Linked DNA regions of Homo sapiens. The protein of the gene in region 3 purifies or fractionates together with the protein of the main gene of each other region. This does not show direct contact. Each region holds a gene or a part of one and is shown on either strand. Other genes may lie near its edges.

The links.
Region 1: the proteins of LEMD2 (region 3) and CSGALNACT2 purify together in Homo sapiens (co-immunoprecipitation; one large-scale study listed by IntAct). This does not show direct contact.
Region 2: the proteins of LEMD2 (region 3) and ATF2 purify together in Homo sapiens (co-immunoprecipitation; one large-scale study listed by IntAct). This does not show direct contact.

What each region holds. Positions count from the first base shown.
Region 1 is NC_000010.11:43,144,743-43,148,472, reverse strand, and holds part of CSGALNACT2 (chondroitin sulfate N-acetylgalactosaminyltransferase 2), read right to left. Parts: intron 1-3,730. UniProt on the Homo sapiens protein: Transfers 1,4-N-acetylgalactosamine (GalNAc) from UDP-GalNAc to the non-reducing end of glucuronic acid (GlcUA). Required for addition of the first GalNAc to the core tetrasaccharide linker and for elongation of chondroitin chains.
Region 2 is NC_000002.12:175,077,657-175,081,386, forward strand, and holds part of ATF2 (cyclic AMP-dependent transcription factor ATF-2), read right to left. Parts: intron 3,110-3,730; coding exon 3,004-3,109; intron 1-3,003. UniProt on the Homo sapiens protein: Transcriptional activator which regulates the transcription of various genes, including those involved in anti-apoptosis, cell growth, and DNA damage response.
Region 3 is NC_000006.12:33,782,631-33,786,130, reverse strand, and holds part of LEMD2 (LEM domain-containing protein 2), read left to right. Parts: intron 1-1,611; coding exon of another isoform or gene 1,612-1,638; exon of another isoform or gene 1,639-1,670; intron 1,671-1,703; coding exon 1,704-1,779; intron 1,780-3,500. UniProt on the Homo sapiens protein: Nuclear lamina-associated inner nuclear membrane protein that is involved in nuclear structure organization, maintenance of nuclear envelope (NE) integrity and NE reformation after mitosis.

The DNA.
Region 1 (3,730 bases), on a different chromosome or scaffold from region 3:
TAATGTACAGATTAAACACAATCCTCTTCAAGAATCCCAGTGGACTTCTTGCAGAAATTGGCAAGCTGATCTTAAAATTTATACAAATTCAAGAAACCCAGAATAACCCAAATAATATTGAACAAGAAAAATGAAATTGAAGGAAAACACTTCCCAATTCCAAAAATTACTACAGAGCCCCAGGTAATTAAGACAATGTGGTATGGCATAGAAATAGACATATAGTCAATGGAATGGAACTTAAAGCCCAAAAATAAATCATCACATTTATGGTTAGTTGATTTTCAACAAGAATAGCAAGGCAGTTCAATGGGAGAAAGAATAGTTTTTTCAATAAATAGTACTGGGACAACTGGATATTTACAGGCAAAAGAATGAAACTAGACTCCTACTTCACACCACATTCAAAAATTATCTCAAAATGGGTCAAATATCTGAATATAAGAGTCAAAACTAGAAAACTCTTAGAACAAAACCTATGTGTAAATATTTGTGACCTTGGATCAGGCAACAGCTTCTTAGATATGACACCAAAGACAAAACAAATATTAACTGGACCTCATCAAAATAAAAAAACTTGTGTTGCAAAGGACATCAACAAGAAAGTGAAGAAATAACCCATACAATTAGAGAACATTTGTAAATCATTTGTCTGTCTTACTTTAAAAAGCAAAAAAAAAAAAAAAAAAAGATAACTCGACAAGCAAAAGATCTGAACAGACATTTCTCTAAAGAAGATATATAAATGGCCTATATAAATACATGAAAAGATGCTCAACACCATTAGCCAAAAAGGAAATGCAAATCAAAAGCACAATTAGATACCACTCCACATCCACTAGCATGTAATTCAAGGTGAATCATAGACCTAAATGGAAAAAAACCAAAAGCAAGCATAGGATAAAATCTTTGTCACTCTGAGTTAGGCAAAGATTTCTTAGATATGATATTCAATAGCATAAATGATAAATTGAATTTCATCAAAATTAGCAATCTGTGCTCTTTCAAAGACATTGTTAAGAGAATGAGAAGACAAGTGATGGACCTGGAGAAAATATGGGCAAAGCATGCGTCTTATAAAGGACTTGTACCAAGAATATATTTTAAAATGATCAAAATGAAATAATAACAAACACAACTCAATTAAAATGTGGGAAAAGGCCTGAACCCTTCAAATAAACACTTGAAAAAGATGCTCGGCCGGGCGCGGTGGCTCACGCCTGTAATCCCAGCACTTTGGGAGGCCGAGGCGGGCGGATCACGAGGTCAGGAGATCGAGACCATCCCGGCTAAAACGGTGAAACCCCGTCTCTACTAAAAATACAAAAAATTAGCCGGGCGTAGTGGCGGGCGCCTGTAGTCCCAGCTACTTGGGAGGCTGAGGCAGGAGAATGGCGTGAACCCGGGAGGCGGAGCTTGCAGTGAGCCGAGATCCCGCCACTGCACTCCAGCCTGGGCGACAGAGCGAGACTCCCGTCTCCACAAAAAAAAAAAAAAAAAAAAAAAAAAGATGCTCAACATTGTTAGTCATTAGGGAAATGCAAATCAAACCATAATAAGACACCACTACACAGAAGGGCTAAAAATAGAATGGCTAACATTAAAAAGAATGACCATACCAAGTGTTGTTAACGTGGAAGGACTAGAACTTTCATACACTGCTGATGGGAATATAAAATAGTTTTGTTAATAAGTTATGAACTTAACAAGTTAGATTATTTTCTTATTAAAAAAAAAAAAAAGACAGCATCTTGCTCTGTTACCAGAGCTGTAGCGCAGTGCCTCTATCATATTATAGCTCAATGTAGCCTAACTCCTGGGCTCAAGTGATCCTCCTGCCTCAGCTTCCCGAGTATCTGGGGCTACAAGTGGGAGCCACTACACCTGGTGGGATGGCTAATATTGAGTGTCAACTTGACTGAACTGAAGGATACAAAGTATTGTTCATGGGTGTGTCTGTGAGGGTGTTGCCAAAGGAAATTAACATTTGAGTCAGTGGACTGGGAGGGGTAGACCCACACTCAATCTGGTTGGGCACCATCTACTCAGCTGCCAGCGGGGGTAGAATAAAGCAGGCAGGAGAAGATGGAAGGGCTGACTTGCTGAGTCTTATGGACTTCATCTTTCTCCCATGCTGGATGCTTCCTGACCTAGAACATCAGACTCCAAGTTCTTTAGCTTTTGGACTCTTGGACTTACACCAGTGGTTTTCCAGGGGCTCTTGGGCCTTTGGCTGCACAGACTGAAGGCTGCACTGTTAGCTTCCCTACTTTTGGGACTCGTACTGATCCACCACTGGCTTCCTTGCTCCTCAACTTGCTGATGACCTATCATGGGACTTCACCTTGTGATGGTGTGAGTCAATTCTCCTTAATAAACTCCCTTTCATATATACATATATCCTCTTAGTTCTGTCCCTCTAGAGAACCCAGACTAATACACTTGGCTAATTAAAAAAAAATCTTTTTTTAGAGAGAGAGTCTTGCTATGTAGTCCAGGCCAAGTTTCTTAATAAGTGAGTAAGCCTACTCATATGATCCAGCCATTCCATTCCTAGATATTTACCTAAAAGAAATGAAAGCACATATTCATACTATTAAAATAAGATGGAGACCAGGTCTGTAAATCCCCTGGACAAAGCCAGTTAAGCCATTAAAACAACCTTGACCTTGCAAATATAAGCAATAGAAGCAAAACTTAATTTGGGCTGTTTGCAAATGTAAACTTTGGTTATTTTTTGTCTGTGCCTATATTAAAGAAAAATCAGGCTGGGCATGGTGGCTCATGCCTGTAAGCACCTTGGGAGGTTGAAGCAGGAGGATCACTTGAGGCCAGAATTTGAGATCAGCCTGGGCAATATAGCTAGCGAGACCTTGCCTCTATAAGAAATTAAAAAATTAGCCAGGCGTGGCGATGCATGTCTGTAGTTCATGTTGCCCTGGTTACTTGAGAGGCTGAGGTGGGAGGATCACTTGAGCCCAGGAGTTCAAAGCTGCAGTGAGCTACGATCGCACCAAAGCACTCTAGCCCTGTCTCTTAAAAAAAAAAAAAAAAAAAAAAAAGAAACAAACAAACTTAGGCTACGCCAATTAGAAGCCATCAACTAACTTACATAACTAGGGACTTTCCAATAGGATGGACTAAACAAGGCAACTATATAAATATAATTAATCAAATATTTTCTTTGCCTTGTTTCCTTGTTCATCCTATAGAAGTCTTCCACTTGCATTCCTTTGGTGGAGTCCCAAATCACTTTTGATTTGTTGCTGTCTGATTCATGAATTGCTGTTTGCTCAGACAAAACTCTTTAAAATTTTATTCTGCCTCAGTTTATACTTTAACAATACCAAAACTTGTACACAAATGTTCATAGCAGCTTCTAGGTGTAGAGCCCAAAACCAGAAACAACCCAGGGTCCACCAACAGGTGAATGGACAAACTGTAGTAAAACAGATACACAATGGAACACTGCTTAGCAATAAAAAGGAATAAACTCTGACACATGCTTCACCATGGATAAATATCAACAATTACTCTGAGTAATAGGAGCCAGGCAACAGAAGTACTTACTATATGATTCTATTTATATAAAATTTTAGAAAATGCAAGGTAATTTGTAGTTAACTGAAAGTAAATCAGTCAATGATTGCCTGTGGGAGGTGGTACCAGGAAGGAATTATAAAAAGGGGTGAAAAAACTTTTGGGAGTAATGGATTTGCTCATTACTTTG
Region 2 (3,730 bases), on a different chromosome or scaffold from region 3:
ATAAGGGATGAATGCTTACCTACAGACTTTCAGAATTAGGTAAAGCAAATCTTTAAGCAGTACAAAGAATCAGGTACTCACAATTATGTAATTATAAACCTTACATACACATCAAATACCTTTACAATGTGATATATTTGCACCTATGTCCAGTTCTAGGTGAGGGGAGAAAATGACTGGTGTAATCACAAGCACTAGAGAGATACAGAAAACCATGCTGTACTCAAAGAGCCACTTCCAGCTCTACCTAAGCTAAAAGAAACCAGCTGTTTGGCAATTCAGTAATCTTGAAAGTTCTCTACCTATGTCCACAAGTTTCTTTTCCTTATTTGAGATAGGGTCTCCCTGTCGCCCAGGCTGGAGTGCTATGGCACGATCACAGCTCACTGCAGCCTTGAACTCTTGGGCTCAAGTGATCCTCTTGCCTCAGCCTCCCAAGTAGCTGGGACTATAGGTGTGTGCCAAAATGCCTGGCTTTTTTAAACTTTATTTTTTGTAGAGATGGGGTCCCGCTATTTCACCCAGACTGGTCTTGAACTCATGGGTTCAAACAATCTTCCCGCCTTGGCCTCCCAAAGTGTTGGGCTTACAAGGGATGAGCCACAGTGCCTGGCCTATACATATTTTCAGTAATAAAAGTATTTGTGGTTGATTAGTCCCCAAGAAGCTTTTCTTCCCATTTATAATTATAGAGACAATTATAATACAACTTTAATTATGCCCAGATCTAAAGAATGTGAATTCATGGCAATAAGATCACTTTTGTGCTTTATTTTTCATGGAACCCAAATATTTAAAATGTACTCTTAGTATTTTCATTCAGGTTTTATATTACTTAACTGTTGGGGTGACTAACTGTCATGGTTTTCCCACGACTGAGGGGTCTTCTTAGGAAGTAGGACTTTCAGTGCTAAAACTGGGCGGGACAGACCCTATGGCTGTGACTTAGTACTTCCACCTTTACTTGAAAGATTTTGTAACATTCCTTAATTTCTACTAAATCTTAGTTTTGATTCCCAAATGTTTTTAAAGATTTAGCTAGTATTACAACTCACCACTGTTAGCAAGAGCTGTGTGCTACAACATAATGAAGAGTGTAAATTTTTCAAAGGTATTCACTTAGTCAATTTCTGTATCTATTTTTACTACTACACAACAGAGAAGTCAGACTTATTTCAAAGATTTCAAACTTGAAAATATAAATTACCTGAAAATTTCTACAAAATCCAATTATCTCCCAAGATCTGAAGAGAATTAATTTTATGGTAGAACTATATTTCAGTTAATTTGATTATCTACATGACTAGACAGGAATAAAGATAGGATTATTTCCAAACAACAAACATATCCTATTCATTTCTTATATTCTCATAACTTAGTACTCTATGTACTAAAAATGTATTAATCTAGATTTTCAGTCATTTAAGTATACAGTATATAAACCTACGCATCTATACACTTAAGATATCTTGTAAATCAATTGTCAAATGAATAACTGGTTTGCATCTGCTGAGCATACATTGCCTGGATAATAGAGTCAAAACTGTTGGGATTATCTAATAAATTATCAAAGATTTAAAAATTACAGGTAATTCTGAATTGGATACAATTTAAGAGAACAGTTAATTTCCTTTTAATTTTATAAAACAATTTATTTCCTTTTAAACTATGAAAATCCAAGAGAGATTTCTTGTTAAGAAAATCACGTATGCATAAATGCTGAACTAGTAGCTTCTATAGGAAATTATGTTGTTAAGTCAGATGGGAACCATAATGGCCTCATCCCTGAAGCAATCATTGTTAATATAAATCCCAAACATATTTCTATATGGTTCCAATTTACTCCAATGTGTTTCACCATCCTGTCAAAATTACTAGATATCAAATAAGCAAGATTTATATGCTCAAAACTGACAAAAATCAGCGTTCTAAATATATATGGCAATTGAGAGTAGCTAAATCTACGGAATCTTTTAAATTAAAAAATATTGCCCATTCTGATGAAACTGCTTATAATGACTACAAGTAAAGATGGTGGCCATTAAGTTTTATCGTGAGCACCTGAGGAACTGTTTGCATCCAATACAAAATGTTTCTTTCTTTTGAATTACTGACACTGGCAAATTAAAATGAAGTGGATACATATGGTTGAAACAATCTTCACATTTACTAATATCCTGAAATATCACTAAATCATAAAGACTAAAACTGTGGGTTATATATTATAAATGTTGCCTAATGCATTCCCAACTCTGTTGTTTGTTACAAATTTGTATACTATGGACAAAATTGGCCATTTATTCAAGAGTAACAGCTGGTTCCAACACTGTGCATCTTATCAAAAAAGAAGGACATTACAAAAAGGAAAAGGCACAATTAACCTTTAAAATGCTGAAAACAAAAGAATCTCATTCTTTGGGAAAACATTTAGCAGGAAATTTACAAGCAGATAATTTAACTACTGTTCCCGTTTTAACATTTTTATAAACTAACTAGATATCTCAATATAAAGGTTTACAACAATAAAAACGTTACACAATGCTGACATTATCTAAGAAAGAACAATAGGATCTGATACCTTAAAGGGATATCATATATTGTTAAAGGCAGTCAGCTGATTTTAAAAAGAAAAATATCATCATTAATGAACGGAGGCTGGGAAAAAAGTAGTGTTTCACCCTGTCAATCTAAGACAAAGTGTTATCCTGAGAAGATGAACAAAATATCATCAAGTACTTACAGTATATTTTAAATTATTAGCTAATCCATTTTGTTGATCTATAGTAACGCTTAGGAAAAAAGCTAGAAACAGGAAAACTCAAACTCTCTAGATTCTAAAAAATTATACCTCTCTACTGCATTCTATAATAACCTTACAGAAATTCTGATATTTAATCTTGAATATTAGAAGCACAGTCTCCATTTTTAAAGTAGCAGCTCAGTTCACTCTGACGGTATTTCACTGACGTAGCCTAAGGCTATAGGTAATGGAACATTACTCACTATGATAGCCAGATTTCTTCTGCATGGCGGTTACAGGGCAATCTTTATGAGCCAGAAGAAGCTGTTTCAGCTGTGCCACTTCATTTCTCAGCAGGGTGACTTCACTCTGGAGAAGAAACAACTTATGTACCTTACCACAGACTAAACATATTTTTTACTATTTAAAACAAGCAAGGATTAAAGTATAAAATTGGACATCACTGGCAGAACATTAAAAACAAAGAAAATATGCTGATTAAATATGTCTAATCAGCACAGGGCAGCTTTTATATTTTAGCATTTATTAAAAAGCTGTAACTTGAATAAAAATTTAAGATAATGCCACAGCTGGATAGCATATTTCAAAATTGTTTCCATTTCCCTGGGACTTCTTATATATTATTGGTGACCTGTTGAAAGTATTTTTATTTTATATATGTTGCATGCTCTTCTGATTATTTAAAAAGAAACATCAAGGGAGTCAGGATGAATTTTCACTGATTCCATTCACCTAAAAATGAAAAAAATCATCCTAGAAATTCAAATAAGCAAGTTTCCAGTTTCCTAGAAACCAAGAAAAGCTCCACAGGGGAAACCAAAATAACCAAAGAATCATGGATACCTAAAATTCACTGCAAGGCACTCTTGCTGGACACTGAAACCAATGAAACTAGATATAACATTTAAATGGCTTAGCTGCCTTTGACCCAGGCAATTTGTACACATCTAAATTTAAATCTGCTAAGTC
Region 3 (3,500 bases):
AGAAGATATGGGGCAGTAAATTTTCAGGTCTTAAATTGTACCAGGAGGAGTCTTGTGCTGCCAGAGGGCATGACTTAGTAGTCTAATTAAGTGTGCAATGCCTGGCCTCCCAAGTCCTTAGTTAACATCTCTAGTAGCCCAGGGGCTGGGAAAGAAAATGACGCATGGTCCTCTGGCCAGCCCTGCATTGACTGTCTTACTCATGTAAATGAGGGGGCATCCTGGTGCAGATAACGGCTTTTATTTCTCTTTGGCTTCGGGTGTGTCATAGTTGGGGGTGTTTTATTACATCCATTTATTGGATTCATCCACCAAATATCTTTGCTTCCCAATTGTTTTGTAAAAACAGATTCATAGTAAGTTTAATCTGCCTTCTATCATAAAAACTGTAGTTGATGATGAGAGGAAGTGGCCCAGAAACACAGGCAGCCAGAGGGGAAACTGGAATTTGAAGACTTAAAACAAAAACAGGAAAAAATAACTTTCTGTAAGACTTCTCAGTGCTGTTAGTTTTGTCTTTTAATTAGAAAAAAGTTCCATGGTTTCTATTTCTTGGTCCTTCACATCTCTAAATGAATCAGACCCACAAGTGAATGGCACATTTGTTCCCTGGCCTTCTCTGATCTGGACACACTCAGGCTCCACTTGAGTGAGCCCAGACAGGTACCCTCCAGGTCCTAGCTACAGATGCGCTCCGTGGGCAGACGGCATTCAGCACCTGCCAGCGAGGGCTTCAGACGCAGATATCCCTATTTGTAACCATTCAGACCTTCATCAGAGCATCAGAAAGCAGGGGCTGGGCCATCTCAATGCAGGCTTTGTGGAGCTAAGATTTCATGGGGCACCCTTGGCCTTTCTGGAGGGTGGACACAGGAACAAGCAGGTGGGGACGTGTTTCTTGGCTTTGGTGAGGCTCTTGCTGAAAGTCTTATTCTTTGCATGGCTCCAGGCTTACCGAGATCACAGACGGGCATTTGAATTTCAGATTCATGTTCTTTCCCTTTTCGGTCGTTGAAGACGGTGACACTTTGTGTTTTTCTTTCTGCCTTTGTGCTGCTGAAAACGTGGGGACAGGCTGGGAGTGGGTGTGTTGTCTTAATCAGGCCGTCTCGTTGTCTGGTACCGTCTGTCCTCCTGTTTCCTTTAGGTGGTAGCAGCCTCTGCTGAGTGGTTTGTGTGAGTTCGCACTGAATCCTACCACAATCCTTACTCAGATGAGGGCTCTGAGATTCCACCTAACGGGAGACGAGATGGCAGCTGCTGACATTCTGCCCTGTCTGCAAGCTCTCCTAGCTCTTCCAGCTCTCCCATCTCTGCAAACTCCGACAGCAGTTGCTCTTCCTCTGAGGAAGCTGAGCGACTGCATCATCCCCCGACCACGTCGCCTCTGCTCAGCCCTCTTAATGGCCGTCATTCCAAGGGAAAGGCAGGAGCCAGGAGCCTCTGGGATGCAGCCCCTTGGTTACAGTGTCTGCTTTCAGCTTTGCCTCTGCTTCTCCAGGGTCTTTCTCAGGCAGTTAACCCAATATTTATCAACTCTCTCCCTAGGCCCAGCACTTGGCAGAATTTTTTTCTATTTTGTAAAAGTATGAGATATTCCTTGCTGTTTAGTATTTGACAGTGTGGCTGGAGAAGTAAAGATGGACAGACGGACCCCTCCCACCCACCCCTCCTTGCTGACCACTTGTCCCGTGCCTTTCCAGTTCTGTCAGGCCAAGCAGAAGGCAGCCTTGCTGGAGCTGCTGCATGAACTCTACAATTTCCTGGCCATCCAAGCTGGTGAGTAAGTCACGTAAGTCCTGAGATTCCTCTTGTGAGAGCTATGGGCGGCTGACCCGGTTCATCAGGCTTAGTTACACTGCTGCTGGCCAGCGAGACACTCCCTGGTTGTCTCTCAGAAGGCATATTCAGAAGCCGAGTCTCACCTTCTCGCCTCCTCACTCAGGCACATCTTTTATAAGCCTTGTGTTTGAACAAAACATATTTGATTCTTGCTCCTCTTTAAGGGAGGTCCTGGCATGTGAACAGGCCTTCCTGCAGCTGTTCTTCCTTCTTGGGGATGCCCACTACCTAATGCTTTGGGGGTCTCTGTTGGCATGGGAAGGGGCCAAGCCCCAGGTGTTGTCAGGATCTGTGTCCTTCACCCTAGAGGGACCCTCTGAACCAGGTGGTTGGCTGGGCCCGGGAGAGGCCTCTTGCCTGTGCAAGTAGCAGATAGTCTGTGTAGTGGGCCCTGGTGTCACATCTGGTCCTGATCACCATGTGGCTGTGGGACCTCGGACAAAGTCCCTGATCCTCTCAGGGTCTTCATCTCCCTGTCTGACCAAGGGCTCTTGGGTCTGTCTGTTCTCTACAAATGAGAGTCAAGTGCTGTCCTCTAAAGGAGGGCATTCTCAGCACCTCTGTGAAATGCCCCTGAAAATGCATCCAGAAGATGCATCCCCTACTGTTTTATTTGGTGAAGTTATTCCTTGAGGCCAGAGATACCACCTGCATTATTATGTCCTGCCCGACGCCTGGCATCCAGGAGGCTCTCAAAATCACTTGCAGTTGACATAGGTGAATATCAGCATGTGCGCCTTGTGTTAAATGCGCTGGACACAAGAACCAGACAGAGCAGTTCTATCTTAAGGGATATTCAAGAGGCGCCTCTTACCTGTGGGGTCAGAGGACAGGTCTTAGGATTGTGAGGTCAACCCTTGTCTAAGGTTTCACTGGGAAATTAGGGTCGGGTGGACTTCTCCTGGGCCCTCAGTCCTCAGGGTCAATCTCATGAGCATCAGCTCTTCTGCCTCCTCCCTCTTGAAAGTGAGAGATGAGATGGTAGGGGAGGCATCCATGAGCACTTGGAGGAGAAACAGGTACTGGGGCTCCTGCTCACAGCATCATAGGAATTCCTCTGTACGGCCCAGGTGCTTGGGATGTCAATTCTGACCTAAGAGAGTGTTCCAAACCTTTGTGTCTCAAATGTGGTCCAAGGACCCATAGCATCTGCATCACGTGGGAGCTCACTAGAAATTCAGAATCTCAGGTCTCATGCCAAACCCAGTGAATCAGAGTCTGTATCTTAAGATCCCCAGGGGATTTGAGTGCACCCTAAAGTTGAGAAGCACTGCTCGAAATTGGGTCCTAGTAGATATTTCTCCTCCATCCTACCCTCCATATGTGGTCTTGCCTTATGCCCTCAAGGGCCCTGGCACCTGTTGCCCTCCGACAAGCCTGGGGGGCCGCCTTGAAGGTACATATCTCATTGAGACAGGAGTGTGCCTCACAGAGGCTCCCTAGTAGTCCTCAACCCCTTCCATGCCTCTCCTGTTAGGGATCCGCTGTGGGCTGGGCACTGTGCAGGCCCTTGCAGTGAGATGACTCAGCTCCAGGTCCTGCCTGCAGGGCCCAACCCCGGCTTGGGGTCTACTGGAAGAGACAGGCCACCTACCTCCCTGACCACTGGGTGATATAAAATGTGATTAGACAAGAACCAAGAGGCCAGAAGTTCTGGG